2 linked regions of the Homo sapiens genome follow. The protein of the gene in region 1 purifies or fractionates together with the protein of each later gene. This does not show direct contact. Each region holds a gene or a part of one and is shown in the gene's direction. Other genes may lie near its edges.

Region 1 (2,196 bases):
ACTCCCTCGCCAATGCCCAGCAAATATTTGAGGAGCTCTATCCCAGCCCCAGCCCATCACACACAGTCATGATCCTGGCTGGGGACCCACACGGACAGGGGGACCTTGGGGGGGTCACACTCTGGAACTAAGGTTCTGGGGGTGCTCTCGTTCCCATGGGGGCCCATCAGCAGGAGTGCACAGGCCTTAGCAGGAGCCCGTGGGGTGCGCTGTGGTGGGAAGGCTGGGAAGGGAAGGGGCCTTGGGAGCCACAGTGGATTGTAGGGTCCCCGCCTCTGGCTCCCCTCGCTCCCCCCTTCCTGCCGTGTTCTCAGTGTGAGCCGGCTCAGCCTTGCCTGGGTGTCCTTGTGCCCTGCGAGCTTCCAAGGGGCGCTGGGGAGGCTTCACAGAGGAGGTGGCTGCGCTTGGCAGCACAGATGATGTGGAGCATGGAGGCAGAGGCTGAGCAAAGTGCCTGGGGGACGGGGTCCCTCGGGGGGCAGGAAGGGCGGGCAGTGGGAGAGGTGCCAGGCCTGGGTCTCGAAGGAGAGCCTGGGAGAGTTCAGGCCATGCCCCTGCCCCGGCCAGGCCAGTGCAGCCCCTGCTCCCGCTGTGCCTGCCAGGGTTCCTGACTCAGCTTTGAGGACCAGGGTGGGGCGGGGTCCTGCCCCAGGCCTAGGCCAGAGCAGCTGGCAGTGGCTGGCACAGAGACATTCATGGACAAGTGTCTGGGAGGCCTGGGGGCGACCGGCAGCCGGTGAGGGGCCTGCGCATGTGGAAAGAGGGGCCTTCCTGCTGCATCTTGTGGGGCCTCCAGCAGGACCCCCTCCTGGGAAGGCTGGACAGCACAGTCGGAGCCGGCAGGACCAGCCAGCCGAGGGCAGGGAGCCGTGGGGCGCCGGGGAGAGGTTCACAGGTGGCCCAAGCGGCAGGGAACAAGATCCCAGTGTGGCCTCAGGTCTGGATGTTTGGAGATGTGGCACCAGGAGTGAGACCAGGAGGCCAGGCCCCTCTGGAGGTGGTGCAGGCTCTGCTGGGTCCTCTGTGTTGCCATCCCTGCCAGGGAAATGCTGGGCAAGAAGGTGCTCCCCGGGCAGGCCCTGGCATGTAGGTGGTGAGGCAGCGTGCTGCTCAGGGCGGGGCCAGGCAGCTGAGTCACAGGCCTGGGGCTGGCTGCCCTGCACAGGAGGGCGAGGCTGGCTCCCGTAGGCAGGAAGGGCCTGGCTGTGGCCCCCTCCTTGTGATGTGGACATCCTTGGTCCATACAGAGCTGTCCTGTCTCCAGAAACAAGTGTTTCTCCATCCTGAGCACACTAGCTTCCTGGGGCCCTCAGGGGCCTGTCCTCCCATCTGTCCATGTGGGGCTGGCGGGGTAGAGCCGGGCTTCTGGACATGTGTGGTGTTGCAGGCCCCTTCAGAGCCCTATGAACACTCCAGGCAAATGCCCAAATGCCCACGGTATTGACCGGCGAGAGGGGGCAAACCCCTGCCTCTCCCCACACGATATCTCCCAGCCCTGCAGCCTGGCATCTGGAGCCATGCGGACCTGGTGACAAGAAGGAGATGGGCAGAACTGTCCCCTTGTCCCCTGGGGGCAGGGCTAGCTCCTAGCCCTGGCAGAACCTAGTAGGACACTTGTTGAATGAGCAGAGGCCTGACTGGGAGAAGTTTCTAGTCTCAGCTGCTCCACATGGACCCCTGGGCCTCCAGATGGCATCTCCACCGGGCCTGGCTGAGTAAGACACACAGGCCCCACACAGCTCCCACATGCTGGCTGGGCTGCTGCGTCGAGGCCAGGATGAGGGCCTCTGGGGCCACTGCTGGGACCTGTTCAAGAGAACGGGCTGGGCACGCTCAAGAGGGGAGTCACACCTTCCGCCCGCAGCCCGGACTTGTTCACAGATGCCTCATGGAGGCTGCTTCCGGAAGCTTGGACTGAGGGTGAGGAGGGGCACGCTGGGATTGGGGACCTTGGTGGCCACGGAGCCGCTGGGGCAGCAAGGACCCTGCGGCCATTTCAGGGACCTCAGAACTGTAGATCGAGGAGGGTCTTCACCTTCCCAGGCCTTCGATTCACCTGTGGAGGGCAGCAGTTGGTAGCAGGGACCCCCTGTCCCTGGTTCTCATGTGCCGGGGGCTGGCTCTTCCTGCCTCCTGTCTGCTGTGGGCCCAGGCCTGGGGCTCCTGCCACCCCATAGGCGCCTCAAGGCCTCCACC
Region 2 (3,500 bases), on another chromosome or scaffold:
TCACACTCCACCTGTTTCTTGGCTTTCTTTGCCACTGATCCAAAATGAATCCCCTCCTTAGCAGGCTTGGAAGGAGTCTCCACGTGGCAAAGGACCCAAGTCACACTGACCAGTTGGTATAGGACAGAGAGCAAAGCAACTGTGACATAAGAACAAAATCCACCATGGGAAAAAGAAGCCAGCCCTCTCATTTTATTATTTATTTATAGGTATTTATTTATTCATATATTATTATTTACATATCTGTTATTATTGCTCAAGTTTTTCCTCTATCTTAGCCTTGATTCAAAAATTACACTTATTAGGCACCTACTATATACCAAACACATTCGTACACATCATTTTATTTAATCCCAACCACAGTCTAACAAGATTGCTTCCATCGTTCTCATTTTACAGTTAAGGAAACTGAGGCTTAGCAAGATAAAGTAATCTGCCCAACCTCATAAAGTAGTAAGTAGTAGAGACAAAAGTAACAAGTTTAGAGTTTGAATCCTAAGATCAACACTCTTTCTATAACATCACAACTGGGAAGTTTAATTTCTCTTTCAGATAAGGTTGGTAGTCTTTTTTTTTTTTTTTTTGGAAAATAATCTCTTACTTGTTTAAAAATAAGTCGGGTCATGGTGGGCAAGCAAACGTCAAAGTATGGGAAGCAGTGAGGCCAACCGGCTGAATACTTATGCCCCAGAGTCAACCATATGTGGGTTTGAGGGTGGACTTTACCACCAATTAGCAATGTGACACTGAGCAAATTACTTCTCTGTAAAACCCTTTTAGGGGATAATAGAAGTTGAAACGAGATCATGGAGGCAAAGCCCTCAGCGCCCTGCCTGACAAGGTGATAACAGTCCACTCGAGTACACAGACACAGTTCACAGTATCAGTTTGATGAGCCAGAGTAACAAAATCTAACCTTTGCTTAATTTACCTGGTACAGGTGACAACGTGCCCAAAAACACATCCCCCTTGCTGTGGCCCAATCTTGTCAGCTTTTTCCTTCACCTCTCTACACATCCCAAATCATTTGAGAAATACACGAGAGTTCCTGCTCTCCCATCTTAAGGAGCCAGTCAGAGCTCCACCCAGAAATGAGTAGGAGCCCCCCACTCCAGGGGAACCACCGTGTGATGGCACTTGGGGTACTTGCCCTGGCCCAAGGAATCTCTCCCTCCCCACCTCAGCTTGTCACCGTGTCTGAAATGTCACCATTAAACATTCAGTACCTTGCCTCTGGAAGACATTGGGTGTTTGCCACTCTCCTGATCGATTGCAGCTATGCCTAAGAGGGGATAACTTATAAAAATGTGGAAACCATCTGTCCATTAAGTGTGGGAAAAAAACCATATAAAATCTTTTTATTTCTCCATCCCAGATTCTTTTAAAATTTGAATTTCCTTACTTGTTTCCTAGATAAGACCATGATGACATCCATTTCGTAGATAAGTTTTCTAAAAAGGCCGAATTCAGAGCTAGTTCTCGGCAGGGGAGAGGTCGCGCCCCGGGTTCGTGCACGATGCCACTAGCATCTCTCCCCTCACTGCACTGATGCCATGAAGCCTTAGAGGCCAGACGGCCCAGGAACCCTGTTGACAGTGGCCAAACCTTAAACACGTACAACTGCTTATTGTTTTCAAAAGTGTGTCTACTTCGACAAACCTCATTCTAGTCTCACATTCCTGATGGGAGGTAGGTAGGACTGGGATCATTAAAACCAGTGGACACCTTTTCTGAGCCAAAGAAGCAAAAAGAATCTATTGAGCAAAAGCAAATTACAAGGAGAGTTCTCACCATCCCTCATTTCCAAACCCAGCCAAAAATCCTATTGCTTTCAGTGATTCAAAAAAAAAAAAAAAAAACACAAAAAAAAAACAAAAAGCCAATAATCACACTGCAGAGCCTGTTCTCATTTTTTGGTTTTTGTTTTTAATAAAACCTATGGTGTCATAAGCTGGCCATAACATGGTATCATTTGCTCCAAAAAGAAAAGACAGTGAAGATATGTCATTGCCTTTGCTCTCTGCCTTGCAGTGTCATCATGACAGGCTCCTACAACAACTTCTTCAGGATGTTCGACAGAAACACCAAGCGTGATGTGACCCTTGAGGCTTCGAGGGAAAACAGCAAGCCCCGGGCTATCCTCAAACCCCGAAAAGTGTGTGTGGGGGGCAAGCGGAGAAAAGACGAGATCAGTGTCGACAGTCTGGACTTTAGCAAAAAGATCTTGCATACAGCTTGGCATCCTTCAGAAAATATTATAGCAGTGGCGGCTACAAATAACCTATATATATTCCAGGACAAGGTTAACTAGGTGGACAAGTTATTACTTAATAATCTCACATACTGAATACTAGTCAAACAAGTTTTTAAATGTTTCTTTGGGTCTTCATTTGATGCATTGACTTTAATTTCCCTATACAGGAAATGATTGGAATAGAATTAAAAGGAGTCCAACATTCCCAGCTCCCCAGTTCTAAGAAACTTTTGTCAAACCCAATAGGTTTGGGACACTTCTGTTTAGAATTGAAAGCTGCCAGCTAACAGTAATTCTTCCATAGTTGACTTGAACTTCTGATGCTTTTATTGCCCAGTTTTCTCTGGTGGGTCCAGTGTTTTGTTCCTAGGTGTCTGCTGCGATAAAATGAGGTTGTCTGTAGTATTTAAGGAGAAAAGAGATAAGTTTTTTTTAATTAAGCAATTCCATTTGATTGAAAAAAATCAACAAAAAATAAACACCGTTTACTCTTAGACAAATTCTTCTTGTTTTGTGAAAAACCAGAACTAGTCAGTATCTCCTGCCCCTCCACCATTTTTTTTTCCATTTTCCATTTTCCTTTGAACAATTTCATTTAAGCCAGAGATTTATTGCATGAAGCTGAGAAGAGGATGCAGAATGACAAGGAAAGGGCACATCAACCCTGCTATGCTCTTTTTTTGTAAGCTCCATAGAAACAGCCTGAGAATTTGGCTAGGGAACTTGAATGCTTCAGGGGACAGAAAGAGAGCACTTTCGACACAGTGCTTCCCAGAGTGAGCTTGGCAGGGCCAGGCGGGGCCAAATTCCATCTGCTGCCTTGTTACTCTTGCTTTTTGTGCTCTTAAATGGCTCCATATAATCTTCTACTTACATGTTCCTTGGCTTTTTTCTCTTCAACCTTTTCCAGCTTATTTATTCCATTGACTTCTAAAGGCCGAGTCCTGGGTGCTTATTATCTGGTGTTCTAAATGAAGCAGTAAGTTGGAAGCAGTGCCACCACCCCTGAGTCCCTGAGAAAGGCTGGTCTGTTCTTTTTGGGTGTTTCTCCTAAGCAGCACCCTCCCCTCCTCCTGGTTTTGGTAACCAAAAGTAACAATCCATCAACCTCCATTGTACCTAGAACAAAAATAGCCAATAAAAACGCTGAGTTGTGAAGTCCAATCAGGCACTTCTAACTCACCCCAAGCTCGCCATCTGGAAAAACAGACCAGAAGGCTCTCTTCTACAGAAATGAACTGTGGGG

What was found. Proteins that work in one complex are often made in the same cells at the same time.
Region 2: the proteins of RGS12 (region 1) and PPP2R2B purify together in Homo sapiens (co-immunoprecipitation; one large-scale study listed by IntAct). This does not show direct contact.

The regions. Positions count from the first base shown.
Region 1 is NC_000004.12:3,436,021-3,438,216, forward strand, and holds part of RGS12 (regulator of G-protein signaling 12), read left to right. Parts: intron 1-2,196. UniProt on the Homo sapiens protein: Regulates G protein-coupled receptor signaling cascades. Inhibits signal transduction by increasing the GTPase activity of G protein alpha subunits, thereby driving them into their inactive GDP-bound form.
Region 2 is NC_000005.10:146,588,758-146,592,257, reverse strand, and holds part of PPP2R2B (serine/threonine-protein phosphatase 2A 55 kDa regulatory subunit B beta isoform), read left to right. Parts: intron 1-2,031; coding exon 2,032-2,311; 3' UTR 2,312-3,500. UniProt on the Homo sapiens protein: The B regulatory subunit might modulate substrate selectivity and catalytic activity, and might also direct the localization of the catalytic enzyme to a particular subcellular compartment.